3 separate regions of the Homo sapiens genome follow, and regions 1 and 3 are each linked to region 2. The links come from fine-mapping of genetic effects on gene expression. A gene starts in region 2. Each other region holds a variant in brackets. All regions are shown on one strand. Distances are from middle to middle.

Region 1 (9,960 bases), 49 kb before region 2:
TGGGAGGCGGGGATTGCAGTGAGCCGAGATTGCACCACTGCACTCCAGCCTGGGTGACAGAGCGAGACTCCATCTAAAAAAAAAAAAAAAAAATTCAAAGAGCCGGCGGGGAGCCGTGCTCAGGGTTGGCTGAGGAAGTCAGAAGGTGCCCATCCAGACATCCTGTCAATTCTGTCACTCCCTGCCCAACCCACCCCAGCTCACCCTCACGGATGAAAGCGGGAGCATGCTGGCAGGCCTGAATAACCACTTCCAACCACATCAGTAGACTACCTGGAAAAACATCTGCCCAGAAACCTGCTCTGGGAATGAAGGTGGCATGAAATTTTCATGATGACCATAAACACCTTTGAGAGCTCGGAAATTTCACTTTACAACAAGCAGGAGTACCTTGTAAAATTTTTAAAGAACATATAAAGACCTCTAAAATGAGCTCATGAGCAGGGACCAGGGCTAGGCAGAGGGCTCTTGGCAGTGGCCACTATTTTAAGACATGGGGTAGCTGCCTCATTGAAGAGAAGACACATGGACTTTTCCAGAAACTGCACTGCACAACACTTCAAAGAAGACTGAGAACATGTCAACTGGCTCAATCAGAGAATTCAGGGAAGCGTCCCAGGTGCCCTTTCCCAGATTTTGTTACTAATGGTCAGTCTGAACTCTTCTTTGGAGAATTGCCCTTGGGCTACTCATACATTCTTTGAGCACAAGTGCAAAGAAGACAGACCAGGAAGCTGGGGGTGTGTACACCACCCCAGGATGGTCCTTAGCTAATGACTGGCAGGTATGGGAACGTGAAAGGCCAGCTCTTTATTTTGGGGCATGATGACGACCACGAGGTGCAATTTACACTCCAGGATTCCCAGAGGGATCAGGCGGGAACTGGGACTTTGCCTGAAAGTGTCCCTTTGCTTACCTCTTTCCCCTTTCCCATCCTGCTCCTCCACTCCCTTACCAGTGTCCCCAGGGGCCAGTCCTTAACAAATCACCTACACGACAATCCCTATCCCGAAGTGGGATCCTGGGGTACCCATCCTAAGAGAGGTGGTGGGCATGGCCAGCTGGATGGGACTGAGCCTGAGCCTGGGCTGGGAGATAAGACCTCCAGGTCTGCAGGAATTGTTGTCATAAAAGGGATCAGTTCTCAAGGAGAAAGAGCTCAGAGTGGGGGAGCTGCACTTGCCACTGCCATGTGGAGCCCATGGAAGAGGCAACGTGCTGTTCCACACCAGGGAACACAAGGCAAAGATTAGGGATCATGCCCCACTCCAGCTTCCCACTCCTTCCTCAGATGCCCAGAATAAGTCAGAAGATAAGCCCAAGTAGCCATCATTGTACCCCCATAACCCATCAAGGAGACTGCATTCTCGAGCCAGCCACACTAGGCCCCTCTTGGGTGGGTGTTACAAAAGTGGCAAACACCTGTCAGACTCTCAACGTCATTTTCAGGACATTGTGGCCACTATAGGGACCCCCAGGTCAGCTCAAGCTGTAAAGAGTTGGGTCTTTATCGCCAAGATTTTCATCACTCAGCAAACCTGATATGCATCAAGAGTCCGGCAGGCTTGGGGATGCTGCAGTGAAGAAAACCCAGCACCGTTCCCACTCAGTCTAGCAGGGGATACAAATCCAGAGGCGACATGGCTTGGCAAGGGGAAAGACTGCAGGACCGCTGCCCCAGCCTTGGGGGATCCAGGAAGGCATCCTGGAGAAAGCAGCACCCATGCTGAGCCCTCAGGAGTGTGTAGGAGCTCACCAGGCAAAGAAGGGAGGGAAGGGCATGTCAGGCCAGGGAACAGCATGAACAAGGCCTGGAAGGGGCAGAGGATGGGTAACAGGGCTGAGTGGGAGGTCAGAGCCCGAGGGGCCTTGTGAGCTGGGCAGAGGGCTTGGACTTTGTCCCAGGGCAGGGGACACACTGGGAGATTTAAGCTGGGGGCAAGGTGACCAGAGCTGCATGTTTTGAAAATTCCTTGCTGCTGTGGGAAGGAGTGGAGGAAGGGAGGCCAGTGAGGAGGCTGCCATATCATCCAGGAATAGAGGGTGGTGGCCCGGACCAGGGGCCTGTCCCAGGGATCATCAGAAAGTGAAATGGATAAGACTTGGGACACATTTTCTCACTGGGGTCGACAAGCCTTCAGGAATCTCTGCAAGCTAATCGTGGCCTCAGAACTGGGGGCTTGGATTTGCCTCCCCACTCCCTGCCAATGTGCCTCCCACCCATCCCAGGAGTGAGGATGGGGCTGTGAGGGGTGGGGTCGTGGAGAGAGCTTTCCAGAAGCTGTAATTCTTGTCTTCACCAGTAGGTGGCGGCACAAGCTAGAAAGGGAAGGGTGGCAAGGTCTCCCCACACACCCAATTCGGGAAAGGCTGTTGCGCCTAATGAACTCATTATCTGGGACTTCCCAATGGGCACTGGACTTATCTTCGGCCTTGCTGATAGTGTAACAATTGCAGCACCTCACTTCTACAGAGAATTGCAGTTCTCCAGACGTTCTGCTCAGAGCTTTACATGAATTACCTCATTTCATCCTCATAGCCCCCTCGTCCACGGGGTGGGAACCATTGTCATCCTGTTTTACACAGAAGGAAGATGAGGCTCAGAGAGGTCAAGTGACTTGTCCAAAGTCACATAGATAAGGAGTCTCAGAATAAGGGCTGGAATTCCAGTCTGTCCCCAACATTACACGAAACAGATATGTTTGCCCTAAACCTACTCTCAGGTAAACAGAGTTTCTCCCATCCTCCTTCTCCTCCTCTCTTCCCCACTTCCCCTTTTTCTCCTCCCCCTCCTGCCCTGCTCCTGAATGCCTCTGAAGACTTTTGAAGATTGCACAGAACCTCAGAGTTAGCATTCTCAACACCTGCCTTCATTGCTTTGGAAGAGATGGAGAGGAACTGGGTTCAAGGGATTTAGAACTCCTCTTTTTAAAACCCAAAGCCCCCCTCACACTTCGTAAGCCTTACTTCCTTCTATAAGGTTGTGGGTCAAGAAGGAACACATGTTTACTCTCATGTTTTAGATGGAGAAAGAGAGTCTAAGGGATGTGCCCAGCCACAGAGTGAGACAGGGCAAAGATGGATCTAGAACACCTGCTCCTTGGTCCTCCACCACCAGCTGTCACCTCATAAATCATCTGTTCACGTATTCCAAGTACATCCTCTGCGCCAGGCATAGTGCTGGGCTCTGGGGCCTCCACCCCCATTCCTCCTGCCCATGCCATGTGGCCTGAATGTTGCATTTTGGGCCATCATCCTGCCAGGGCCTGGACTTCAGAGCCCAATCACAGGCTCTGTCAACCAGGCTTTCACTGCAGCACTAAGCCACATTTCGGCAGGGCTCCAAACAGATGGAAAACATTAATAAATGCGTAAGAATCATTTTCTTTCCTCCCACCCCACCAAGAGTCAAGCTGGTGGATAATTATGGGATGGTTGCCAAAGGAGTTTGATCTTCCGTGTTGACTTACAGCATTTTTACTGCTCCATCTGAAGGCCAATTTAGTCATTTCCCTTTACAATTTTGTGGACTCTCTCCTTTCTGCAGGAAATCCGAAACTGTAATCAGGCCACGACTGGAACAGGGAGAAAAGGAGTGGGGAGCAGCCGAGGAAGGCAGAGGCTGAACCCAAGGGAAGGGGCGGAAGGAAGAAGCTACATGTTTGCTTGGCTGGAAGGGTCATGGGTATCGGAGGAAATACAGTAACAATAACAACAGTATTAAGCAGTGCCATGAAGCGAGCACTTTCGATGAGTCAGGACTGTGTTAAGCACTCGACCTACTTAGACTATTTCATTTAATCCTCCATCATGGATTCTTCCACTAATATTGCTCTAGACTCGGGGTAAACTGAGGAGCAGGACAGACCAGGCCCTGGTCTTTGTGGAACTGCCATTCCAGAGGAATGGCAGAGGAGACGGACAATAAACACCGAAGTCATATCATTTCAGTTGCTGATGAGTGCTACAACAAAGTAATAAACAGAGAGCCTGGGAACTGCTTTGCACAAGGCAACAGAGAAAGCTTCTCTGAGGAGCCTGAAGGACAAAAAGGATAGAATCAGGCAAAGATCAAAATATGGGCAGTGGAGGGGAAGTGGGGGAGAGAACATTCCACGCAGAGAGAATAGCAAGTGCAAAGGC[C/T]CTGAGAAGGGGGGAAAGGTGCTGTGACCCAGAAACTACCAGGGAGAGGGAGGAGAGGGAAATGAGGTCCTAGCAAGACAGTCAATCAGACCTTGCAGACCATGGGGTGTTTGGTTCTGTTGGCAAGGCTGGATCTAGAATGCCTAATTCTTGACCCTCCACCAGCTGCCATTCCGTAAGTCATCTGTGTATGTGTTGCAGGCACCTACTGTGTGCCAGGCATCGTGCTAGAGGAAAGGAAAGGGTGGCAAGGTCTCCCCAACCCCCCCACCTCTTGGGAAACGGTGTTGTGCTTAGTGAACTGGTTATTCGGGACTTTCCACTGGGCAGTGGATATCATTTGTGTTATTAGCAGCATGATAGCAGTGGCACCTAACTTCTCTGAGGAATTGTTGTTCACCAGATGCTCTGCACATCCCCACAGCCCCATGCAGTGGGGGCAACTCTTACCCCACCTTTGGTGAAGTGACAGATAAAACAGAGCAACATGCTCTGATTTATGCTTTCGCAAAACGATGGCTTCAGCTGTACACACACACCTTACCCCATTTAGCTCTGCAGTATGAGTGCTTCACAAACACACACACACACACACACACACACACACACAACATCGTGCCCCCAAGGCCACACAACTATCAGGGACAGAGCTACAGTTCAAGCCCAAGGTCTCTTTAGCCTTAACCTCTGCCACAAGCTGGCATCACGGAGAAGGACAGGGCTGGCAAATGAGGAGGAGAGTGACTGCCGGGGGCACTTTGAGAACTTGGCCCCAGGCCTGGAATCTGGCCTTCAGATATTTTCTTGGCCTGGGCCCAGACCAGCAGCCCTCCAGCCCTTCCAGGCAGCCTGCTGCCCAGTTGAATGAAGGAGTCTGCTCTCAGAGTATCTGCTGTGGGAGAGCCCCGGACCCCAAGCATCTTCAAAGGTCTATTATTAATGGGGCTGTCCAGCTGAAGCTGACATCCGCACGCAGCCCTCCCAGAGCTCTGCACCTCAGCCAGCCCACGGCCTCCACCGTCTGGCCCTGTCGGCTGAGTGGTGCCCAGCAAGGTGAGAAGGCCAAGTCCTGCCCGCTGGGCCAGGCAGAGGTCACCCGCCGCGCCTGAGCTACCGGTGTGTGATGAGAGGACTGCCCCACGTCTTCCCTCATTTCCCAGCTGCCTCAGTTTCCCTTCCTGAGAGAGGCAGGGTTCTGGGAGGTGAGGAGCTGCAGGGACCCAAGAAGGGCATAGAAGCCGCCTGGGGACACTGGCCCCTCTGTCAGGATCAATCGCCCTAAGCCTGTCTGAGGCGCTCCGGGCTTAGGAGCAGCTGTGAAAGCCGCCTTTGTGCCTGGGAGAATGAGCCGCAAGAGGACAGGGGGCCCTCGCCCCGGGAGCCCCTTGGGTCCTGGCTCCTGAGATCAACGCCAGCAGGGAGGACCCCAGCCTGGCCCCTGCAGCCCACCCAGGCCTGGTGCCCACTTCGTGCCATGGGAGCAGCCCAGGGGAAGAAGGTAGGAACCTCTAAGTGTCCTGTTGGGGCCCTGGTCATGGGAAGGGAGACTGGACCTAGCAAGTGGGAGCCCCGACCCACCTACCCTGCAGCTTCAGCCGGCAGTGCCCACCAGCCCTCCCCCTGGAACTCACAGCCAAGACTTGCATCTAGAAAGCAGGCAAGGGCTCAGGGAAGAACCAGTGTCCTATCTCTCCATCTCTAGGACAGACTCGGGGGCAGCCAAATCTCTCTGGCTCCCTGGTCTTAACCACACACATCTCTACTTCCCTGAATAAAAGCTCCCTGGGTACCCCTTCCCCATACCCCAGGAGAGTGTCTGATGCAGGTGGATACAGGGGAAAGATCTTAAAATTATTATTATAAAGTTAGCTAACCAGCTGTTACCAGTTGTAGGGCAATAGGCAAGTTATTTAAGCTTTCTGTACCTTATTTCCTCACCTGTAAAATAGGGCCAATAATAATCACTACCTTGGAAAATCATTGTGAAAATTAAATGAGTGAAAGTGTTTGGAACACTGCCTGGCACTGTGTAGAGGCTTTGCTCCATTATTATTAGAATTCTATTCATGTTATTATCCCTCACCTTCTAAGCCTGAGCTCTCAGCTGGGGGTTTGTAGACAGCATTGCCTGAGAACTGTTTCTGGAAATGTGCTCTGCGGACCCCTGCGTCAGCATCCTGGGGTGGGGAGTAGGAGGGAGCTTGTGAAACAGTCACTTTCTCATGGCCCATCAGACCTCCTGGATCAGCCTCTTAGGGGCAAAGAGGGGCCTGCATTTACTCACCAGCTCTCGGGATTGTCCTACGTGCTCACTGCTCTCCAACCACAACGACCCGGTACTGCCATCCCAGTGGCATAGACAGGCTGCCGTGTCCCAGATCCACCACCCACCTACCGTGGCGATGACCTGAACCCCTCTGGACCTCAGGTTCTTGTTTATAAAGGGGGGCTGGTACCTGCTTCGTGGGAAGTTCAACAAGATGATGCCTGTGAAGTGCTCAGTGTGCTACCCCAAGCCCAGAGGCTCCCCGATAAACATGGGACTCTGATCCTCAGACAACCAGTGATGACCTGTTCCATCAAGGTTGAGAAACTCAAGGAAGAAGTAATTTCTTAGCCAGGGTCATGCAGCTAGTGGGGGAAAGAGCAGGGTACTGCTATTGTTGTTAATTTGGAAAGAGGAGCTTTATTTCTCATAAAGGGTTGCAGCCTGCAGGGTGGCCATTCCGAGAGGCTGGGAAGCATGGCCTCTGGCCAGAATCCAGAAACTGACACTTTGAGGAAGAGGCAAAGGGAGTAGAAATTTATGCTGAGCAGCATGGCCAAATATACATATTCAATAAGCTGTGGGAGGGGTCATGAATATTTATGAAAGGAGAAACATCTACATGCACAGTTGAGCTTCATGCCTCTTACAGGCCCCAGGTACAAAAAAATGTTGGCCTTAGTGTGATCTGAGGGTGGAGTTTTCAGCCCTCTGATGTCAAAGGTGAAGCAGGGAGCACGAAAACCCTCACTGTGCATCCTCTGCAGACTGGCTAGAACCGCTCCATGATTGGTGATCTCTTATCAAGAAAGAATGCTGGTTGGTTTTTGTGTTAAAACCACAAAAGGGAGGGGCAGTTGGTTGAAATCAGCATGGAGTCTTTTGAAAAGGCCTGTTTCTGTTTAGCTCTTAGGGAATTAGGATAACGGAGGTTATCAAGGGATGGCACACTACGGGGCACGTGCGACCTCCCATCCCGTCATGGCCAGAAACCCGGTTTTCAAGATTTCTCTGGGGTCTCCTTGGCCAAGAGGGGGTCCGTTCAGTCACTTGCCAGAGTGGAGGGGTGGGGTTTGTTTAAAGTTTTATTTTTATTTCTCATTTTTATTGGGTAGGATTTTGACCCCATTCTGCTTGACTCCAAACAACCCAGCCCATCCCACCCTTCCTGGTCCATAGCTCTGTCCACAGCATCTTCCTCAGCCCCACCCCAACCTCCCACAGAAGGCTGTTGATCAGGCAGGCACCTGCTGCCCTATGCCAGGGCCTATGTGGAGCTGGAGCCAAGGGTGAGGAGACACAGCCCCTGCCCTTGAGGCCGTCCCTGTCAGTTGCAGAGACTAATAGGCAGGCAAAAAATAGTTGGTAGTATGTGTGAAAGTTGAAGCAGAGGTGACTGGGCACATGACCCCTGGGCCAGGAGTCAAAACACAGCGTTGTTGCTTCTATTCCTCTTAGGCAAGGTCTGGACTTTGCTTTTAGGTGAACTCACCTTTGTCCCCTGGGGAATGTCAGGGGCATAGGCTTTGCCTAGAATCCTAAACCCACACTGGCAGGGGATGGAAGGGATCACGTGGTTGGTTAAGGCCAACCAGAGCCCACCCTTGGAGCCACAGATCTGTCTCCCAATGGCATGGCTGTTACTCAATGGAAGGGAGAGTGCTGGACATTTCATTGTAATGGCCCCCCAGGAGGAGAGACAGCGTTCTCTCCAGCTGTGGGGTGGGCAGAGAGAATGGAAGAACACTGAAAGGGTCGAGGGTGTGACAGATAGACCACTGGGCCAGGAGTCAAAACACAGACATTGTTGTTTCTGTTCTTCTTAGGCAGGGCCTGAACTTCCCTTGGACTTGGCATTTTTTTAAATCTGCCCCTATCAAGGGCACCAAGGTGGGTACCCTGGCCTCTATCAGGGTTTTTGCAAGAAGATATTTTAACACACAGAAGCAATCCCTCTAACACTGTTTGGAACATTCCAGAAACTTCAACATTTGACCCACTGGGCATGCATTGATGCCAGAGAGGTGAGTTCAACCCAGATGTCTGGATGGGAGCCACGTTTTAAGCCCTTGCATTACACAGCAAGGCCACAGGTCCTGCGGCAGCAGTGGGTTCAAGAAAAGCACCTTCCATGGGCCTCAGACACCAGCCAGTTCATAGACACCAACAGAGTGTGGGCACGCCGTCCTCCACCCCAATCAGCAGTGGCCAGTGCCCTCGCCCAGGATAGAGGACACAACCACAAGCTTCCAGAGGCTGCCCTGCACAAGTCCAGCTCCCCAGGCTGTGACCGTAATGCCACCCTTAAAGGGGCTGCTAAATGGAAAATGTTCCTGAGCACAGCTCGCATGCACTGCCGCTTCTGCACCAATTCGCTCATTTAGTCTTCAAACAGCTCTTGGACATGGAGAGTTTTATCACCCAGAAATCCAGAGACGTGGAGAGGTTAAGCAAGAGGCTCAGGGTCACCCAGCTAGTAAGGGTGGAGTTAACATTTGACCCAGGCTGCCCTAAGAGCCTGGCCTCTCAAACAGCAAACCCCACTGCCGGCGCTTCTGAAGGTGGAAACACAACAGTGCTCACATCCCACCTGGAGCCCCTGTCGGGGCATCTCATTTAACCCCTCTGAGCCTCAGTTTCCTCAGCTGTCAAGCAGCATGATGATTTACCTTCCACAGCAGGCTGGGGCGAGGTGCCCAGCACTCAGTGGGTGCTCAGGGAATGGCACGTGGTCCTGTTGCTGCTGCTCTAGAGGCTGCAGGTGGAGCTTCTGCAGGGCAGGAGGCGGCAGCATAGCCCCCTGGAGGTTTGGACACTTGGCTTTCGTTCTGTAAAACATTTCTCCAAACCCAACACCACCCAGGTTTTTTGTGGCCCTGAAAGAGTCCTGTCCTCTGACCCTGTTGTTTACCAAGACACTCATCGCTTTGCATTCACCTTCATTAAGAGAAAGTTGCCTTGACTGAAACAAAAGGGGAAAAAAATAGAAGCACTATGGCTAAATTTGATGAATGGCCTGAAAGGGTGTGTTCATTCTATCAGAGCCCAGAAGGTACACATCTGGCTGGGCCCTGCTGGCTCCCTGAACAATTTTCCCTGCCGATGATGGATGGGCCTGCCTGGTGCTCAGGGCCGCCAAGCCCAGCAGAGGATTCCAGCTCATTGCGCCCAGCTCAGTGACGTGTGAGGACCTCATCAGGAGGCGCTCACAGCATGCCATCCCATCACCCTGACTCTGCCCACCGCCTCAGACGGCTTCTCTGAGGAGAAAGGGGCCTTGCACCTCACTTCTGGGTGCCATTGGGACTCCACAGCTGGGTTCCCAAAGGACTCCTGTGCCCAGAGTGGGAGGCTCAAGGACAAGAGGAGAAATGTGTCAGGAGCTCATGGGGGTGAGGAAAAAATATCCCCCCCAACAAAGGCAGAGCCCCCCTCCTGCCCAGCAGCCTCCCCACTGGGCCCTGGTCTCTGGGATCATTCCAGCCTCTCCACCTTTTCTCACTCCATTTGCCTGCCTGTATTGCCCTCCTGATTTCTATCCACCGCCAACA
Region 2 (9,960 bases):
CATGGTGGTGCATGCCTGTGGTCCTAGCTACTCAGGAGGCTGAGGTGGGAGGATCACTTGAGCCCAGAGAGTTGAGGCTGCCATGAGCTGTGTTTGCTCCACTGCCCTCCAGCCTGAGCAACAGAGCAAGACCGTGTCCCCCCCCAAAAAAAAAGAAAAGAAAAAGAAAAAGAAAAACGTTTATCCCAAGGTATTTCAAAATAATTTTTTTTTTTTTTGACAGAGTTTTGCTCTTGTTGCCCAGGGTGGAGTGCAATGGCGGGATCTCAGCTCACTGCAACCTCTGGCTCCCGAGTTCAAGCAACTCTCCTGCCTCAGCCTCCTGAGTAGCTGGAATTACAGGCTCCCGCCACCACGCCCGGCTAATTTTGTATTTTTAATAGAGACAGGGTTTCACCATGTTGGTCAGGCTGGTCTCGAACTCCTGACCTGAGGTCATCCACCCGCCTTGGCCTCCCAAAGTGCTGGGATTACAGGCATGAGCCACCGCACCCGGCTAAAATAATTTCTTAATATTAGAGTAAGACATGCTCACCATAGATATTTCGAGAAATTGAGACTAAAGAGGAGGAGGCCTAACACATAATCCCACTAACCACGGGCGGCCACACATAACATTTGGAAATGCCTCCTTCCAAACCTTGCTATGCATAGTGTGTGTGTGTTTTACACTGTTGAGACTGTTCTGACTCTAGTCTTTAATTCCACTTTTTTCAGTTGGATGAAAATCTTGAATGCTCGGCCGGGCACAGTGGCTCACGCCTGTAATCCCAACGCTCTGCGAGGCCAAGGCAGGTGGATCACTTGAGGTCAGGTGTTCGAGACCAGCCTGGCCAACATAGTGAAACCCCATCTCTACCAAAAATACAAAAATTAGCTAGGCGTGATGGCAGGTGCCTGTAATGCCAGCTACTCGGGAGGCTGAGGTGGGAGAATCACTTGAACCCGGGAGGCAGAGGTCGCAGTGAGCCGAAATCGTGCCACTGCCCTCCAGCCTGGCAACAGAGCAAGACTCTGTCTCAAACAAACAAACAAACAAACTTGAATGCTCTTAAGTGAGTTATCAAAATAATAGTTGCCACTTACAGAGCCCTGACTCCATGGCAGCCACGGTGTGAAGGGCTCTCCAGAACATATCTCCTTTGTTCCTCAAAAACACGTCTGCCCCATTTTAGGGAGGAGGAAACAGAGAGTTGAAGGTCACCCAGTTGTCCAGCAATGGAGTCAGGATTGTGGTCCGGGTTGGCACCAGAGTCCATGCTCTCAATCACAGGGCTAGAAGGGTCACCTCTGTGGAATAACTCCTGTTTGGCCATGCCTGGGAGGCAATACAGTCCAGTAGTTCAAGTCCACTTGAGGGGCGTTAACCTGCATCCTACCTGGAGCTCAGGTCATGTTCCTGGAAGGGAGGAAAGCATCTCTCTGCACTATGGACAAAAAGGCACCTCCCCAGGTGCCTGCGGGCATCAGCAACTATACTTCTTCTCCGCAGCCAGAGGGGCAGACGCAGCCTCCACCCCTGCCTCTGCCAGGTAGGGCTGCCAGATAAAATACAGGGCACTCAGTTCCATCTGAATTTCAGAGAAACAACAAATCATATTTTAGTGTAAGCATGTTCCAGCTATGTCATGGACTATACTAAAAAGTTATTTGGTGCTCATTAGAAATTCAAATTTAACTTCGATGTGTGACATTTTTATTTGGTACATCTAGCAACTATGCTGCCAGGAATCATGAAGTTTGCTCAGTTTGACAGCTGTGGTCTGCCCAGGTTCTCCTGCATGCATGCGCGCACACATACACACACACACAGAGAAACAGACACACACACGCACACACACACATGCTCCCTCTCACATCCTCTCACCATCCATAGATTCACTCACTGTGCTTCTTGTCTGATTACAAGGGAATTAAAATGTACTGGGGATGGGGGTACCCCAGGGTCCTTCTGCAGCTAAGAGACCAAATTAACCATGTCTAATTGCAGCTGGGTGGAGAGCCAGCTTTCAGAAACAAGACTCTAAGTTCTTCCCCACCCCCTCTCACTTTCCCATTTTCACGCTTGAAATCCCTCAACTGGGTAAATTCTTCCCGGTTCAAACTTGTTGTAAAGGCGACTCTCATTCCTTTTATAATCTCTCCACAGATCCCATGACAGGTTCTTTCTGCCAGCACAGCTTCTTCTCCCCCAACCCCCGAGTCCTTTCTGCAGAGCATGTTTGAGAGGCGGGGGGCACGGTTTAATCCTAGGGCTGTTTTGTGGGTGGCTGCTCAGAAACCCCATTGAGGCCTTGAAAAGGGGCCTTGGAGATTTAGACTGAATACAGGGCTGAGGAGGAAGTTTTAAGTTGCCATGGAAACTTCTTGTTTGATGTTCGTGGGCCCAGATAAGCTGTTCTAGGCGCCCATGGGCTTGGAGAAAGGGGGCAAAAATGAAACAAAAGCTGTTTGGGGAGGTTATTTTCTGCACACTGCAGCCCAGCCCACTATAGATGCAGGAAAATTCTCCACCTCCCTGTCAGGACTGCCTCCCCTGGTCTTCCCTGTCCCCCTTCCTTTGGGTTCCTCTGGTTCCCAAGAAATCAGAGTTAAAAGGGGATGGGAGGGAAGACAGGAGGGGTGTGCCCAGCCCCTGGGCTTCCCCCTTTGATGCCCCAGCTCACCAGGGGGCCGAGCAAGTATGCAGATCCCCAGGCCCCTGGCTTCCCAGAGTCCTTCCTTTTGGAAGAATAGGAAGACCTCCAGGGAAAGCCACACAGAAGGAGGCAGGAGACAGCGACTGTGGCTTGAATTATGCAATTACCTGGAGTAAACGCCTCAAAGGCTTGTTTGTTCAGAGGGCCTCTGTTTTCCCATATTCTGATGACATAACTGAGCCAGATGTGATTCCTAACTAACTACAGTTGTTTGGGAAATGTTGCTCTTTCTCACATTTTTAATTCTTAGAGTCTTTTTCTGATAACAAAAGTAATATATGCTAGGGCCTTTTTTTTTCTTTTAACACCGCAAACATCACAGAAATGCAGTGACAAAGGAGAAGGGCCTGTAATTTTACGCTGTAGAACAATGGTCCTCAAACTCTTTAATATAAATGAGCCCCCAGAGAGGTATGTTTAAAATCCAGATTCCATGGTGGCTTCATTCCTGTGATCCTAGCACTTTGGGAGGCTGAAGCAGGAGGAACACTTGAGGCCAAGAGTTCAAGACCAGCCTGGGCAACACAGTGAGATCTCATTTCTAAAAAAAATAAAAAATTAGCTGGGTGTGGTGGCATGTGTCTGTAGTCTCAGCTACTTGGGAGACTGAGGTGGGAGGCTCGCTTGATCCCAGGAGGTCAAGGCTGCAGTGAGCCATTATGGCACCACTGCATTCAGCCTAGGTAACAGAGTAATGCTCTGTCTCAAAAAAAAAAAAAAAAAAAAAATCCAGATTCCTAGGTTCCTCCCTAGGAAAAAAAAAAAGCAAGAGCATTTTTAGCACTCATTTCAAATGACATCTAGTAATAGTATTTGAGATACACTGATCTAGAGTTGACCTCTGCTAACAGATTAGTGTATTTGCCTCCACACTAGTTCTTTATACATATACCAACTTTTTTATCTTGAAAAAAAAAAGAGATCCTACTACATATGATTTTTCATTGAATATGTAGAAGACATCTTTTTCAGGTCAATACATAGACATGTTTATTGGCTGCATCTCGTCTTGGGGTGTAGCATAGTCTCTTGCTGATGGAGTGTGGCCTGGGAAAGGGTGGTGGTTGGCCGCTGATCTCACGTACAGTTGCACCTGCACATGGACACACAGCAAGATGGTGCTGTAACAAGCTCAGCGCTGTCAAGGTTTTCGGTGTCTTCAGGTTAACAATAGTTATTGAGCCCCTCAGTACTGGGACAGGAAGATAGGTAGGTACCTGCCCTGGGGCTAGCAGTCTGATGGGTTTGTATACAAGTTGGACTGTGAGAAGAGTTTTTGTGGGAGAAGCACAGTGACTCCCAACTGCCCACGGAAAATGACGCCCAACATCCGAGGACTACTGCCCAGTTCTCCTTGGCTGTCAGGTGCGTGTTCCTCTGAAGTGTACCAGGTGATGGGCTTCTGTCTTCTCCGGGGATGAGCAGGAGCTGTCAGAAGTTCCCCCGCTCCAGGATCCTTCTTACTCTCCAACTGTTAGAAGGCACTGGGATTGGTTCATCTGAGCCACCAAAGACCCTAGGAAATATTCAAAATACTTCTTTGCAGAGCAGGAGGATGTGTGCAAGGAACCAGGGTCAGCAAAGAGTGGTTTGACAAGAATCTAGCTGTCCTCTTCTACCAGGAGAGTTTGGGGAAGTTAAGGCAGAGCAGGGTGGGAGGCTGAGGGGGCTACCATTCATAGTGCCTCAAGAAATGCAGAATTGGGGAAGAAGAAAAAAAGGGACCACACATTGTTTCCAGAAAATTGTTTTATACCCAAGAATTTAGGACCCTCTTAGTTTAAGTGGCTCGAGAATGGTCAGCGTGGCCAAGACTCCCTGGACATGCCTGCCCTGTCCCTCCCACTCCACCCCTGTCTCCCACCTCCCTCACTCCCAAGATGGCACCCAGCCTGCCTTTACATCACACCAGGATCCACCCAGTCTGGGCCTTTCCACTGGCTCTTCCCACCCTACGAAGACTCTCCCATGTGTACAGACTTCACACAACTGACTCCTTGTGATTCTGCTACCCTAAAACACCACCCGCTCTCACCTCACCCAGCCTTGCGTTCATCACGGCATTCCTCACTGCCTGACGTCATCCTGAATGTCCCCTTCTTTACTGTGTGTCCCCCTTGAAGGTAGGTTCCCTGACAGCAGGGATATTACCTGTGTCATTCACATGGTACCCCCAGCACTTAGAACAGTGCCAGGAACACAGTAGGAATTAAATAAATGTTTGTTAAATGAACAAATAATATAGGCCAAAGAAGACACAAGGTTGCCTTGTTAAAGCCTCCATTCACCTGTGATGCATGTCCTAGGCCTCATCACCTTCTAGCCAACCAAGACTCCATGAGAAAGTAAAGTTGGGGTGGAGGCCTGGTCTAACTGGTAGACCCCAGCTTCCTCACTGGGGAACTAGGATGACACTAAACGATAGAAAACACTTCCAGCTTTTCAAGTGAAAGCTGATTCTGAAATTAGGAGAATGCCTCCATTATCTATAAGCATCCAGGCTGGCCTTAAGGATCTACATACATTTTTTACTTTTCTTGGGTTTTTTTGTTTGTTTGTTTTTTGGGTTTTTTTGAGACAGTCTTGCTCTGTCACCCAGGCTGGAGTGCAGTGGCCCAATCTTGGCTCACTGCAAACTCTGCCTCCCAAGTTCAAGCAATTCTCCTGCCTCAGCCTCCCAGGTAGCTGGGATTACAGGTGTGTGCCACCACCCCTGGCTAATTTTTGTATTTTTAGTAGAGACAGGGTTTTACCATGTTGGCCAGGCTGTTCTCAAACTTCTGACCTCAAATGATCTGCCTACCTCAGCCTCCCAAAGTGCTGGGATTACAGGCATGAGCTACCATGCCTGGCCTACTTTTATATTTTACATTCACATGTTCATTCATTGAGCCACTACTTATGGAACACATATTCTGCCAGGCAAAATGCACCATGCTGGGCTCTGGCCTCAGATCACGTAGAGTCCAGGTCTCTCTTGGAGAAAAGTCCTATATGCTGAGCTTTGACTATGTGCTTCACTAATGTCATCTCATCCATGTCATCTCCCAACCACCCTGGTATGCTCCACATTTGACAAACACAGAAACCAAGACACAGAGACACTGAGTGGCTGCTGAAGGGGCTGGTGCTGGAGCCAGGGCCAACACATGAGCCTGCTGAGACCCAGACACGGTGCATCCCCTCTCCCACGCTCTTCCGTTGGCTCCTCTGTGAAGTTCCAATGACATTCAAGGTATCAGGAAAACGCTGTGTACGGAGTTTCTGACCCATTCGTGGATAATTAAGAACTGACCCAATGCTGAGCAGTTTCCCCTCCCTTTACACCCCACCCTTTTCCCCCCAGAGCCATTTTCTCCTGAAGAATCCACACCACTGCCTCAGGAAGCTTGGCTTCCCCTCCCATGGGGAAGTGCTGGAATCCACTCTTGCCTGACCCTCCCATAAGAAACAAGGGAAATTCCTTTACGTGAGCCGCCTTGCTCAGAACAAAGCTTGGCGTGTTTCTTATTCCTCATCAATCTGACAAAATGGGTATTTATTTGTGCCTCTCAAGCGTGTGGCTTGGACATGATGTTCCGCATCGTGGAAGTGGCCGTGCACCAAGTGGAATATCTGTTACTATAGTAACAGTTCCTTTTTATTGATACCAGAATAAACAGGAATGCAAAGGCTGTCTCACTTGTTGGCACATTTCAGCAGCCTCCGTTCCCAGGGGTTTAAGAACCGCCCTCTAGAGGCAGCCCTCCTTGCTAGTCTGGGACTTCCCGGTGGAGTGAGGAACCCAGCAACACGCTCCTGACTTCCCTTCCCAAGGACTCGACCTGAGAAGTAAGACCATCTCTGTTCTGTTTCATCTGCTGTTGAGAGCGGTGCCGTTCGGGAGGAGGTGGAAGGGAAGGAGGGCAGACCCGGTACACTGAAGTGGGCTGTCAGTGGACCTGAGTGCTTTGAGTTTAGGTACCCGGGCTATGTCCCAGCATCCATAAAATGATACGGGAGATGCCTCCAGGCACCCTGGGTTTCGGAAAAGGGTAGGAGACAAAGAAGCGAGCCCCCTGGCATAGCCCTGCATTCTTGTTGATCTTTTTCTGCTGCATCCTCAGGTGAATCTGAATTAATGCATGATATAGCCTCACCTAAGTCAATTATCACACAGTATGGGGGTTTAATTCTCAGCACAACAGACAGAACACAGATTTCAGCTTCAGAGTTTGGCTCAGATTCAAGCTCTTTCCTTCACCGGCTGTGTGATTTGGGGAAATCAGATGACTTCCCTGAACTTCAGTTTCCTTGACTGTAAAAAGAGGATAATAACAGTACCCACCTCTTCAGTCTGTCGTAAGAATTTCATATTTCATGAGATATGGCTGCTAGGTGCTTAGCACAGTGCATGGCACATAGTGCACGCAGGTTAACGTGTGAAGGGCCTGCCTTTCTGGTGAATTTGGCTTTAGGACTTTGCAATACAAGGCAAGTCTGAGATTGGGCCAGAAATCAAGAGCTGTAGGATTGGGTGTGTCACTTTTTGAAACTGCTACCAAACCCAAGTAGCTTTGAGCTTCAAGGCAGCCCCCACGCCTGCATCTCTGGGTGGCTTAGATCCTGAGTGGCCCTCTTAGTTCTGTTGGTGGTGAGTACCTGCTGGAATTTTCCCTGCAGAGGCATCTGCCAGGTAAAGTGGCTGACATCATGCCACTAATGAGCCAGCAGGGATTCCAGGTCTGCTGATGCTTGTTCCAGATCAACTGCACAATGCTGTCCACTAACCTTGCTAAGTATCCTCCATGTCTAGCCCTGGACTCTGCTATTTAATTGGTTCAAAATCCTAAATGTCCACCCAACATTCTCCTTCCGAGGTAGGAAGTTGCAACGGACCTGAGGCAAAATGTTCAGGAAGTCAGCCTTGAGTCATTGCATCCAAATGGACAAGCAGCTCTGCTGGGGGCTTCCGAGCATCGACCAGAAGCTGCTGGGAGATCTGGAGGTGGCTCCGAGATACACTGTTCTTTGGCTGCTGGCCAGTGAAATACAAATAGGCACTTTCCCCATGGAGAGGAAAAAAGCCAGAAGGGTCAGGAAATCCAGTGACCGTGCTTGTCACTTTTACTGAATGCCTGTTTTTCCTTTGCCAGTCGTTATTTTGAAAGCCTCTCTTCTCCTCTGCCCTGGCATCCCATTAAATGCTGAACCAAGAGGGTTCTGAATGTGTTCGGAACCCAGCAGCTTGAACAGTAATGAGGAAGTGGGGGCACAGGAGGGAAGGCCACCAGCTGGTCCTCTCCTAAACAGAGACCAGCCTGAGGCCAGACAGGCCCGTGGACTCTAGCTTAAGCCCAAAGCTGCTAGGGCCAGGCTGGGGCTCCCCAGTGAGAGTTTGCATTTCACGTAGGCTAGGAGTCCTCAAGTTAGCAGGCCTCCATGTTCTTATCTATAAAATGGGCTCACACAGCCTCTTCATTGGGGTTTCTTGACTATCTAGAGAGAGAAAAGGGACATAACCCTGCTTTGTCAACTAAAAGACATTTTGCACCTTGAAGACAGTGGAGAGGTAGAAAGAGCATTGAATTTGGCGTCCAAGGTCCTGGCTTTGCTGCTTACTCTCTGTGTATCGAGACAAGTAGCTTGGCCTCTCTGAGCCTTAGTTTTCTCATCTATAAAACAGGGTACCACTGGCTGCCTCCAAGGGTGATTTAGAGATCCAGATCAAATTCTAGTGGTGACCACAGGGTTTCTTCAGGACAGAAGTACCATAGTTTGTCTTCGGTGAGCATCACTCTGCCAGGCGCTGGGCTAAGCACATCATGCCATTGTATCACTTCACCCTCCAAACTGCTCCATGAATAGGCTGTTATCCTTGCTGTATAGAGGCTCAGAGAGGTTAAGCTACTTGCCCAAGGTAACACAGCTGGGAAGGATTGCCACCATGAATCAAACCCACTCTGTCTCCACTAAAACATCTGCTTTAACCATTGCTTTACTGGCTTATGTGTCATTTGTTACAACTGATGCCATCGAAGACAGAAACATGACTACCAGAACAGTGGAGAGGCAAGTGGAAGGGACACTGAGGCCTTAGACAGCCTGGGGTCCCATGGCTATTGTCAAGACGAACTGGGCCCCGAGACTCCATCAGTGCAGCTCTCCTTCTGTCTCTCCTTACTCTCTCCTGTGGCTGCAGGCACCAGTGTTTGGTTTCAAATCTGCCACCCTGCATTAGCCATGCATGCCCCAGTGGCCCGGTGCACTCTCCGTGGGAGCAGCAGTGATCTCTGCTGAGCCTTGCCTGGTGTGGGGCCAACATCCTGTGGAGCCTGTGGCAAGGAGCTCTGGGACCTCTTGGGTCACCAACAGAACCAGGGAGGAACCAAGCAAGGGGTTCCAAATCTTTCCTCAGACCCCTTATTATCCCCACCCCAGGAAAAACAACATCAGTCCCATAAACTGCATATTGAGAATTATTTGCCATCCTATAGTCATGCAAGACACTCAATAGCTGTCGCCTACTGGTGGCCTCCACCCCATGCCCAGCTCTTTAGCTCATCCAATCTTCACAGCATCACAATTCTACAGAGGAGCATCCCAGAGGTTAGAGACCATCCCAAGATCACACAGCTGCTAAGAACTGTGACCTTAATCAGATTTGCTCACAATAACCAGGCCAACTACAGTCAGCTGAGATCCTTCAGGACCGAAGCAAATAAGTTTGTGTTTTGGGTTTTTAACTCCATGGTTTGCAAAGTTGGCTGACTCTAGGAATCACCTAGGGAGCTTTTAAAAATCCCCAAAGCCAAGCCGCCCCCCAAACCCATTAAATCAGAATCCCTGTGGTGGGACTCAGGCACTGGAATTTTTGAAACTTCCTGTGGTGATGCCGATATGCAGCCAAAGTTAAGATCCACTGATTTAACCAGTGTGGTTTCTGAGGATGAGAAGGCTCCATCTAGGACTAGGAATGGGATTTATTAATAGTGATTGTTAATAGCAGCTAACAGGGTGGTCACACTGCCATTCCAGGGGCACCATTCACAGTTTAATCTATAGGAGTTGAGGACTTGCTGTGAGGTACCCAACCAGCCTGTTGTATGTGGCAGCCCTGGTAGCCAGCCCCAAGCGCTCAACTCTGTACGAGGCATTTGCCAAGCACCTTGCAAGTATCACCTCGTTTATGATATCACAAGTTCATGGAGGAGGATTCTAATGTAACGCTCATTTTGCAGAGGAGGAAACACCAGATCAAAAGCAGCTGTCCCATCTCAAC
Region 3 (9,960 bases), 99 kb before region 2:
TTTCCAGCTACACATTAGTGATTTCACAGTGGTAGCTTGAAATTAGTCATAGCGTGTGCATTTACATCATGGAAATTGACAAACACTATAAATTGGAGCTTGATTTTTTGTTCTGTTGATTGTCTAAACCCTAGGCTTAAGAAAGGATAGAGAAAATGTTAATAATGCAGATTAAACATTAAGGTATGGGCTGTCTGTGGCCATTACGTTGTGAATGGAAAAAAAAGGAAATGTTCTTCCAGTATTCAAAAACTGTTATCTGATTCAGCAAAGAAGTCATTCATGTCACTGTGATTGAGTGGAGTATTGACTGTGTCTTCATTGTTTCACTTTCATCTTATTCATTAATATAAATGAAAACATCAACCAATGTTCATGACAAAACTACACTCATTCATTTGATGACCTGAGAGACCTCTTCGCTAAATGGGAAACTAAGCAACCATATATTCACAGTCTACTTTTGTCAAATCATGGTTAAATTGCAACTACAGGTTGGCTAATTCAAGAAGCTGGCAAAAATGAGTGAAAGTATGCTGTAGGCCAATTGGCTGTGTGGAATTTACAGTGGGTATTATATATCTTATTATTATTTAAATTTCAAGGTATGTGTTTGCTACACAACCTCAATACCAGTAAAACATAACCCATTTATGTATGTACAGACAAGTATACATTTTTTTCTCTGGAGAGTTAATTGACAAACATTTATCAGCCCAGCACTGGTGGAGACAGGTAGAGGACAATCAGTGAGTCAAGAGCAAGCCTCAGGGTACCCACAAAGTCCTGCAGGAGTGGAGGGGCATGGTTTCTCGCTCACACTGAAAGGGTCTGAATGGGGTGATTTCTGACCTGGGTTCTGCTCTCAATGATGTTAGGAGGATGTGGTGAGACACTGGTCCTCGACATCACCCTGTCCCTGGTCTGGTCACCCAGCCCCACGCTGGGCCTCCTTGGATTTGAATGAGGAAGGAGGCATTTGGAGAACAGTATCAGTCACAGTGTTCCCTTTGCTGCTCCATGTCTGAGTCCTGGTTCCAGCACCCTCCACAGCCCTAGAGATGTGGGCCCCACCCCTGAGGCAGCAAGCCCTCCCTCAGCGTCAGGACCTCTTGCAAAGGAGGAGGGCAGTGAAGTCAAGGAGAGCACAGGGAAAGACAGCGGCTAAAAGGGCGGAAGCAGTCCCTGCTGAGCCAGGCTTCCTGCTGCACACTGGATCTGCATCTTCTCATTTCATCCTCACAACAACCCGATGGGGCATCTCTCTTAACAGCCTCATTTTACAGAGGACATCGGGGCTCAGAAAAACAAAATGACTTGCCCAAGCAAGCTCACACTGCTGCTCAGTGTAGGAGCCGGGATTTGAACACAGGCAACCAGACCACATGCATGCTAAAGTGATGGGTGAGGCCGGCTTCCTCCCAGGCATCTTAGTGATGATGAAATGTGAGCATGACAGGGAAGCATGAAGAAAAAAAGAGCCTCACCCATAGCTATGATCATGATGGAGATGACAATGAAGATGAGATGATAATGATGACGATGATCTATGAGAATCAGAAATAAAATCCTTTCATTTCATTTGATTTTCAGATTTCTTTAGGGATGGACTGATTACTCCAACTAGCAGGAAACACATTTTTCATTCTTTTCACACATTTTTATTGAGCTCCTACTATATTTTAGGCATGGGAGACAAAGCCAAAAAAAAAAGCAAGACAGGCAAAAGGAAACAAATGGCAGCATCCCTCTGATGGTGTCCACCCCAGATTGTACCAGGAAGTGGGTCTCCTCTTGCTTTTCCTCATATCCACAGACCCCAGCCTGCTTTCTGGCCCAGAGAAGGTATTCATTAAGCATTTGTCGATGAACAGCTGGACCGAGGAATGCCATAAGGCTTGGTTATACCAGAGCAGCGGCCTTCCCTGCCCCACTCCAAAGCTGCCTGTGCACAACCTGCAAAAGGAAATTCCCAGGGGTCCTTTTGGTCCCCAGATGTGCTCAATGTCTGCGTTCTCTGAGCTGCTCCCACCCTCAGGCTGCCCCTGGGAGAAGACCCACCAGCCCACATGCCTGGCTGGCCCACCCACTCAGAGCCTGGCTCCTAGGAGGGAAATTCCAGGTCACCTACCTCAGTGGGGCCTCTGCCTCCCCTAAGTCACTGGAGAAGCCAGGACAAGAGGGCAAATTCCAGCCAGCCCAGCTGCCTGGAAGCCAGGGAGGGTGAGTACTCCCTCTTTGAATAAAAGGACAACAGCTGTAAACCCCAATAAAAAAAGCTATGAGGTGTCCATAAAGGCTTCCTTCCAGGATCTCTAAATCCCTGCCCCACCCAGACACTTCCTTAAACCTAGGAAGGCAGTGATGACACAGTAGGAGCTGCCTCTGGTTCACATCCTGAGGATTTCCCAGCGTTGTTAAACCTGTGCCCATGCCCGAGGAGGGTTTGCCCCTGGGAAGTTGGGCAAACACTCAGCCGAAAGGAAAGGCAGGTGGAGAAGCCACATAGAGTACTTATCCTGAACTTTATTATGATGATTCCAAAGTTACATCTGTTACCTGTAGAACAGAGAGAGTAGTATCAAGGAGAAAGTTAAAATCGCCAAAACACCTCCTCCAGGAAACAGCCATTTGGCAGTTTGCTGCATCTCTTGCAGTCTTTCGTCTCTATGTGGGTTTGTTTATTTACATTGTTTTCATCAGAACCATTCCCAGGATACTATTTTAAAATGCGTGACTATGTGGAAAGAAAAGGAGACATCCGATCCTATTTCCATAACATCACTAAGCCCCCACACCCCCATTTTTTGGCAGCCTTAAGAAGGATGAGAGAAACTCCGGAATTTATGGTTGGCACTGAAGTTAAATTATGGTAGATACTGAAGTTCTCACCACGCTGACAAGTGGAGGGTTGGAGTGAAATTTAACCTGATTTAGAAATATAAAGAAATATGATATTTCTTATACCCATGGCAGAGAGTAAAATTCATGCCAGCTGATGTATGGCTGCTTGGCTAGCAAGGAAAAAGGGAGAGAGAAACAGAGAAAAACAGAAAGGGAAAGACAAAGAACCAGAGAGAAGGACATATATATGCTTGTGAATGCATAGAAAATTCTAGAAAAATACTTAGAAATTATGAATAGTGGTTCATCTTCAAGAGTGAGTAAAGATGAGCATTTAAATAGATATTTCATATAGCTCTGCACTGTTCTGAATATTTTACCATAAACAAGTATTATTTTCATAATTCTTAAAACATTTGAAGTGATTTTCCCACTTCAAATATTATGAATAGGTTACATGGCAAAGGAGAATTAAGATTGCAGGTAAAATTAAGGTTGCTGATCAGCTCACCTTAAAATTGGGAGAATGGGGGGAACCTGGGCAAGACGGCTGAGTAGGAACAGCTCCAGTCTGCAGCTCCCAGCAAGATCAACACAGAAGGCGGGTGATTTCTGCATTTCCAACTGAGGTACCCGGCTTATCTCATTAGGACTGGTTACACAGTGGATGCAGCCCACAGAGGGTGAGCTGAAGCAGGGTAGGGTGTCACCTCACCCGGGAAGCACAAGGGATCAGGGAACTCCCTCCCCTAGCCAAGGGGAAGCCGTGAGGGACCGTGCCGTGAGGAACAGTGCATTCCGGCCCAGATACTACGCTTTTCCCATGGTCTTCAAAACCTGCAAACCAGGAGATTCCCTTGGATGCCCATGCCACCAGGGCCCTGGGTTTCAAGCAAAAAACTGGGCGGCCATTTGGGCAGACACTGAGCTAGATGCAGTTTTTTTATCCATACCCCAGTGGTGCCCAGAATGCCAGTGAGACATAACCATTCACTCCCCTGGAAAGGGGGATGAAGCCAGGGAGCCAAGTGGTCTACTCAGTGGATCCTACCCCCATGGAGGCCAGCAAGCTAAGATCCACTGGTTTGAAATTCTCGCTGCCAGCACAGCAGTCTGAAGTCGACCTGGGATGCTCGAGCTTGGTGGGGGGAAGGGCATCTGCCATTATTGAGACTTGAGTAGGCAGTTTTCCCCTCACAGTGTAAACAAAGGGGAAGTTCAAACTGGACGGAGCCCACCGCAGCTCAGCAAAGCTGCTGTAGCCAGACTTCCTGTCTAGATTCCTCCTCTCCAGGCATGGCATCTCTGAAAGAAAGGCAGCAGCCCCAGTCAGGGGCTTATAGATAAAACTCCCATCTCCCTGGGACAGAGCACCTGGGGGAAGGGGTGGCTGTGGGCACAGCTTCAGCAGACTTAAACGTTCCTGCCTGCCAGCTCTGAAGAGAGCAGCGGATCTCCCAGCACAGTGCTCGAGCTCTGCTAAGGGACAGACTGCCTCCTCAAGTGGGCCCCTGACCCCTGTGCCTCCTGACTGGGAGAAACCTCCCAGCAGGGGTCAACAGACACCTCATACAGGAGGGCTCCCGCTGGCATTTGGCAGGTGCCCCTCTGAGACACAGCTTCCAGAGGAAGGAACAGGCAGCAATCTTTACTGTTCTGCAGCCTCCACTGGTGATACCCAGGCAAACAGGGTCTGGAGTGGACCTCCAGCAAACTTCTGCAGACATGTAGCAGAAGGGCCGGACTGTTAAAAGGAAAACTAACAAACAGAAAGGAATAGCATCAACATCAACAAAAAGGACGTCCACACAAAAACCCCATCCAAAGGTCACGAACATTGAAGACCAAAGGTAGATAAATTCATGAAGATGAAGAAAAACCAGTGCAAAAGGCTGAAAATTCCAAAAACCAGAATGCCTCTTCTCCTCCAAAGGATCACAGCTCCTCTCCAGCAAGGAATCAAAACTGGAGGGAGAAGGAGTTTGACAAATTGACAGAAGTAGGCTTGAGAAGGTGGGTAATAACAAACTACTCCGAGCTAAAGGAGCAT[G/C]TTCTAACCCAATGCAAGGAAGCTAAGAACCTTGAAAAAAGGTTAGAGGAATGGCTAACTAGAATAACCAGTTTAGAGAAGAACATAATGACCTGATGGAGCTGAAAAACACAGCATGAGAACTTCGTCAGCATATGCAAGTATCAATAGCTGAATCGATCAAGCAGAAGAAAGGATATCAGAGATTGAAAATCATCTTAATGAAATAAAACGTGAAGACAAGATTAAAGAAAAAAGAATGAAAACGAACGAATAAAGCCTTCAAAAAATATGGGACTATGTGAAGAAAACAAACCTGATTGATTGGTGTACCTGAAAGTGACAGGGAGAATGGAACCAAGTTGGAAAACACTCTTCAGGATATTATCCAGGAGAACTTCCCCAACCTAGCAAGACAGGTCAACATTCAAATTCAGGAAACACAGAGAACACCACAAAGATACTCCTCGAGAAGAGCAACCCCAAGACACATAATCATCAGATTCACCAAGGTTGAAATGAAAGAAAAAATTATAAGGGCAGCCAGAGATAAAGGTCGGGTTACACACAAAGGGAAGCCCATCAGACTAACAGTGGATCTCTCTGCAGAAACCCTAAAAGCCAGAAGAGAGTGGGGGCCAATATTCAACATTTTTAAAGAAAAGAATTTTCAACCCAGAATTTCATATCCAGCCAAACTAAGCTTCATAAGCAAAGGAGAAATAAAATCCTTTACAGACAAGCAACTGCTGAGAGATTTTGTCACCACCAGGCCTGTTTTACAAGAGCTCCTGAAAGAAGCACTAAATATGGAAAAAAAAAAAAAAAACTGGTACCAGCCACTGCAAAAACATACCAAATTGTAAAGACCATCGACACTATGAAGTAGCTGCATAAACCAACAGGCAAAATAACCAGCTAGCATCATAACGACAGGATCAAATTCACACATAACAATATTAACCTTAAATAATAAGGGCTAAATGCCCCAATTAAAAGACACAGACTAGCAAATGGGATAAAGAGTCAAGACCCATCAGTGTGCTGTATTTAGGAGACCCATCTCACATGCAAAGACACACAGGCTCAAAATTAAAGGGTGGAGGAAGATTTACCAAGCAAATGGAAAGAAAAAAAAATTAGGCGTTGCAATCTTAGTCTCTGATAAAACAGACTTTAAACCACAAAGATCAAAAAAGACAAAGAAGGGCATTACATAATGGTAAAGGGATCAACGCAATAAAAAGAGCTAACTATCCCAAATATATATACACCCAATACAGGAGCAACCAGATTCATAAAGCAGGTTCTTAGAGACCTACAAAGAGACTTAGACTCCCACACAATAATAGTGGGAGACTTTAACACCCCACTGTCAATATTAGACAGATCAATAACACAGAAAATTAACAAGGATATTCAGGACTTGAACTCAGCTTTGGACAAAGCAGACCTAATAGACATCTACAGAACTTTCCATCCGAAATCAACAGAATATACATTCTTCTCGGCACCGCATTGCACTTATTCTAAAATTGACCACATAATTGGAAGTAAAACACTCCTCAGCAAATGCAAAAGAAGAGAAATCATAACAAACAGTCTCTCAGACCACAGTGCAATCAAATTAGAACTCAGGATTAAGAAACTCACTAAAAACCCCACAACTACATGGAAACTGAACAACCTGCTCCTGAATGACTACTGGGTAAATAACGAAATTAAGGCAGAAATGAGTAAGTTATTTGAAACCAATGAGAACAAAGGCAGAATATACCAGAATCTCTGGGACACAGCTAAAGCAGTGTTTAGGGGGAAATTTATAGCCTAAATGCCCAAAGGAGAAAGTTGGAAAGATCTAAAATCGACACCCTAACATCACAATTAAAAGAACTAGAGAAGCAAGGGCAAACAAATTCAAAAGCTAGCAGAAGATAAGAAATAACTAAGATCAGAGCAGAACTGAAGGGGATAGAGACACAAAAAAACCTTCAAAAAATCAATGAATCCTGGAGCTGGTTTTTTTTTTTAAAGATTAACAAAATAGATAGACTGCTAGCCAGACTAATAAAGAAGAAAAGAGAGAAGGATCAGATAGACACAATAAAAAATGATAAAGGGGGTATCACAACTGATCCCACAAAAATACAAACTACCATCAGAGAATACTATAAACACCTCTATGCAAATAAACTAGAAAATCTAGAAGAAATGAATAAATTCCTGGACACATACACCCTCCCAACACTAAACCAGGAAGAAGTCAAATCCCTGAATAGAGCAATAGCAAGTTCTGAAATTGAGGAGGTGAAGGACCTCTTCAAGGAGAACTACAAACCACTACTCAAGAAAATAATAGAGGACACAAGCAAATGGAAAAACATTCCATGCTCATGAATAGAAAGAATCAATATCATGCAAATGGCCATACTGTCCAAAGTAATTTATAGATTCAATACTATCCCCATCAAGCTACCATTGACTTTCTTCACAGAATTAGAAAAAACTACTTTAAATTTCATATGGAACCAAAAAAGAGCCTGTATAGCCAAGACAATCCTAAGCAAAAAGAACAAAGTCTAGAGGCATCACGCTACCTGACTTCAATTTATGCTACAAGGGTACAGTAACCAAAACAGCATGGTACTGGTACCAAAACAGATATATAGACCAATGGAACAGAACAGAGGCCTCAGAAATAATGCCACACGTCTACAACCATCTGACCTTTGACAAACCTTACAAAAACAAGCAATGGGGAAAGGATTCCCTATTTAATAAATGGTGTTGGGAAAACTGGATAGCCATATGCAGAAAACTGAAACTGGACCCCTTCCTTACATCTTATACAAAAATTAACTCAAGATGGATTAAAGACTTAAACATAAGACCTAAAACCATAAAAACCCTAGATGATACCATTCAGGACATAGGCATAGGTAAAGACTTCATGACTAAAACACCAAAAGCAATTGCAACAATAGCAAAATTGACAAATGGGATCTAATTAAACTAAAGAGCTTCTGCACAGCAAAAGAAACTATCATCAGAGTGAACAGGCAACCTACAGAATGGGAGAAAATTTTTACAATCTATCCATCTGACAAAGGGCTAACATCCAGAATCAACAAGGAACTTAAACAAATTTACAAGAAAAAAATAACCCCATCAAAAAGTGGGCAAAGGATATAAACAGACACTTCTCAAAAGAAGACATTTATGTGTCCAACAGACAGAATACAAAGCTCATCATCACTGGTCATTAGAGAAATGCAAATCAAAACCACAATGAGATACCATCTCATGCCAGTTAGAATGGCGATCACTAAAAAGTCAGGCAACAATAGATGCTGGAGAGGATGTGGAGAAACAGGAATGCTTTTACACTGTTGGTAGGAGTGTAAATTAGTTCAACTATTGTGGAGGACAGTGTGGCGATTCCTCAAGGATCTAGAACCAGAAATACCATTTGACCCAGCAATCCCATCACTGGGTATAACCCAAAGGATTACAAATTATTCTACTATAAAGACACATGCACACGTATGTTTATTGCAGCACTATTCACAATAGCAAAGACTTGGAACCAACCCAAATGCCCATCAATGATAGACTGGATAAAGAAAATGTGGCACATATACTACACAGCCATAAAAAGAGATGAGTTCATGTCCTTTACAGGGACATGGATGAAGCTGGAAACGATCATTCTCAGCAAACTAACACAGGAACAGAAAACCAAACACCGCATGTTCTCATTCATAAGTGGGAGTTGAACAATGAGAACACACGGACACAGGGAGGGAAACAACACACACCGGGCCCTGTCGGGGGATGAGGGGCTAGGGGAGGGATAGCATTAGGACAAATACCTAATGTAGATGATGGGTTGATGAGTGCAGCAAACCACCATGGCACATGTATACCTATGTAACAAATCTGCACATTCTGCACATGTATCCCAGAACTTAAAGTATGATTTAAAAAAAAAAATTGGGAGAATGTCCTGGATTATTGGGGGCCCCAATGTAGTCACAAAGCTCCTTTAAAGTGAAAGAAGAGCCAGGCATAAGGTTCACACCAGTAGTCCTAGGTACTCAGGAGGCTGAGGCAGGAGGATTGCTTGAGTTCAAGAGTTCAAGACCAACCTGGGCAACATAGCAAGACCCCATCTCTAAAAATAAAAATAAGGTGAAAGAGGGAGGGAGGCAAAAGGATGAGCGTCAGGGAGATGGTACAATGGAAGAAGGGCCATAAAGATGCAACCTCACTGGCTTCGAAGATGGGGAAGGAGCCATGAGCCAAGGAGAGTGGGTGGCCTCTAGATACTAGAAGAAGCAAGGAAATGAGCTTTCCCAGGAGCCCCCAGAAAGGAATGTAGCCCTGTGACACCTTGGTTTTAGCTCAGTGAGACCCATCAGACTGGGACCTGACTCAGCCACCCTACACCTCTGCCCACCCACAGTTGGAGACAGACTGTGGACAGAGTGGCTGGTGACCAGTGAGCAAGGCCTCTGAGTGCAGGAGCACCTGTGCCCACCGCCCACTCCAGTCCTCAGCACCGATGGAAAGGCTTCTATTTCATGGCTTGTTATTGCTGTTGTTCAAAGGAACGGCAGTAGCATTAAAGAAATGAATGGAAGAATGAATTATTAATGGTTGCAAGGGAAATTTGTAACTCAGTATGCTATCCTCAACTTCGTCTCTTACACCAAGGCACTGACTTTATTACAAAGCCAATCAGGCCATGAGGCACACGTGGCCACATTGGATGTGGTCAATTACCGAGGTGAGGGAAACTAAATTGTTGGTAGTTTCTTGCTGAAGCACTTGGCGCAGTCATGCTCTGTGACTTTCTCCCTTGGCTTCAGAGCGCACCTGGCTTCCTTTTGTTATCAAGGCTTGTGGCTGCTGTGAAAAATGCTGAAGGGAATGTAAATAAATTACTGCCTGGTCTAGTTTCTTCTCAAAGATTAGAACTAGAAAAATCGATGCAACGGTCATTTATCCCATCGGTGAGCCAACTCTTCTGTCTTTGGGCACCCAGAAGGTCAAATACAGCCTATACAGCCACTCACATCTGTGTA

Evidence for each region.
Region 1: its variant is fine-mapped to the expression of FAM107A in testis (GTEx, PIP above 0.99).
Region 3: its variant is fine-mapped to the expression of FAM107A in visceral fat (GTEx, PIP 0.99).

What each region holds. Positions count from the first base shown.
Region 1 is chr3:58,622,652-58,632,611 of GRCh38, reverse strand. FAM3D-AS1 (FAM3D antisense RNA 1) reads right to left here. Exons shown (of 4, transcript NR_134853.1): 3 at 1-73. It also overlaps a transcript of FAM107A not described here. Among named protein-coding and RNA genes, the nearest start is that of FAM3D-AS1, 21 kb to the right of the region's middle. RefSeq lists an enhancer at 3,253-3,754. The variant C/T (reference allele first, on the strand shown) is at 4,144.
Region 2 is chr3:58,573,879-58,583,838 of GRCh38, reverse strand. It overlaps FAM107A (family with sequence similarity 107 member A), which reads left to right and starts at 6,448. Exons shown (of 4, transcript NM_001076778.3): 1 at 6,448-6,530. LOC107984079 (a long non-coding RNA gene) reads right to left here. Exons shown (of 3, transcript XR_001740724.2): 3 at 3,664-4,215.
Region 3 is chr3:58,672,477-58,682,436 of GRCh38, reverse strand. The region is part of intron 2 of LOC105377109 (a long non-coding RNA gene); the gene reads right to left. Among named protein-coding and RNA genes, the nearest start is that of FAM3D, 11 kb to the right of the region's middle. The variant G/C (reference allele first, on the strand shown) is at 4,895.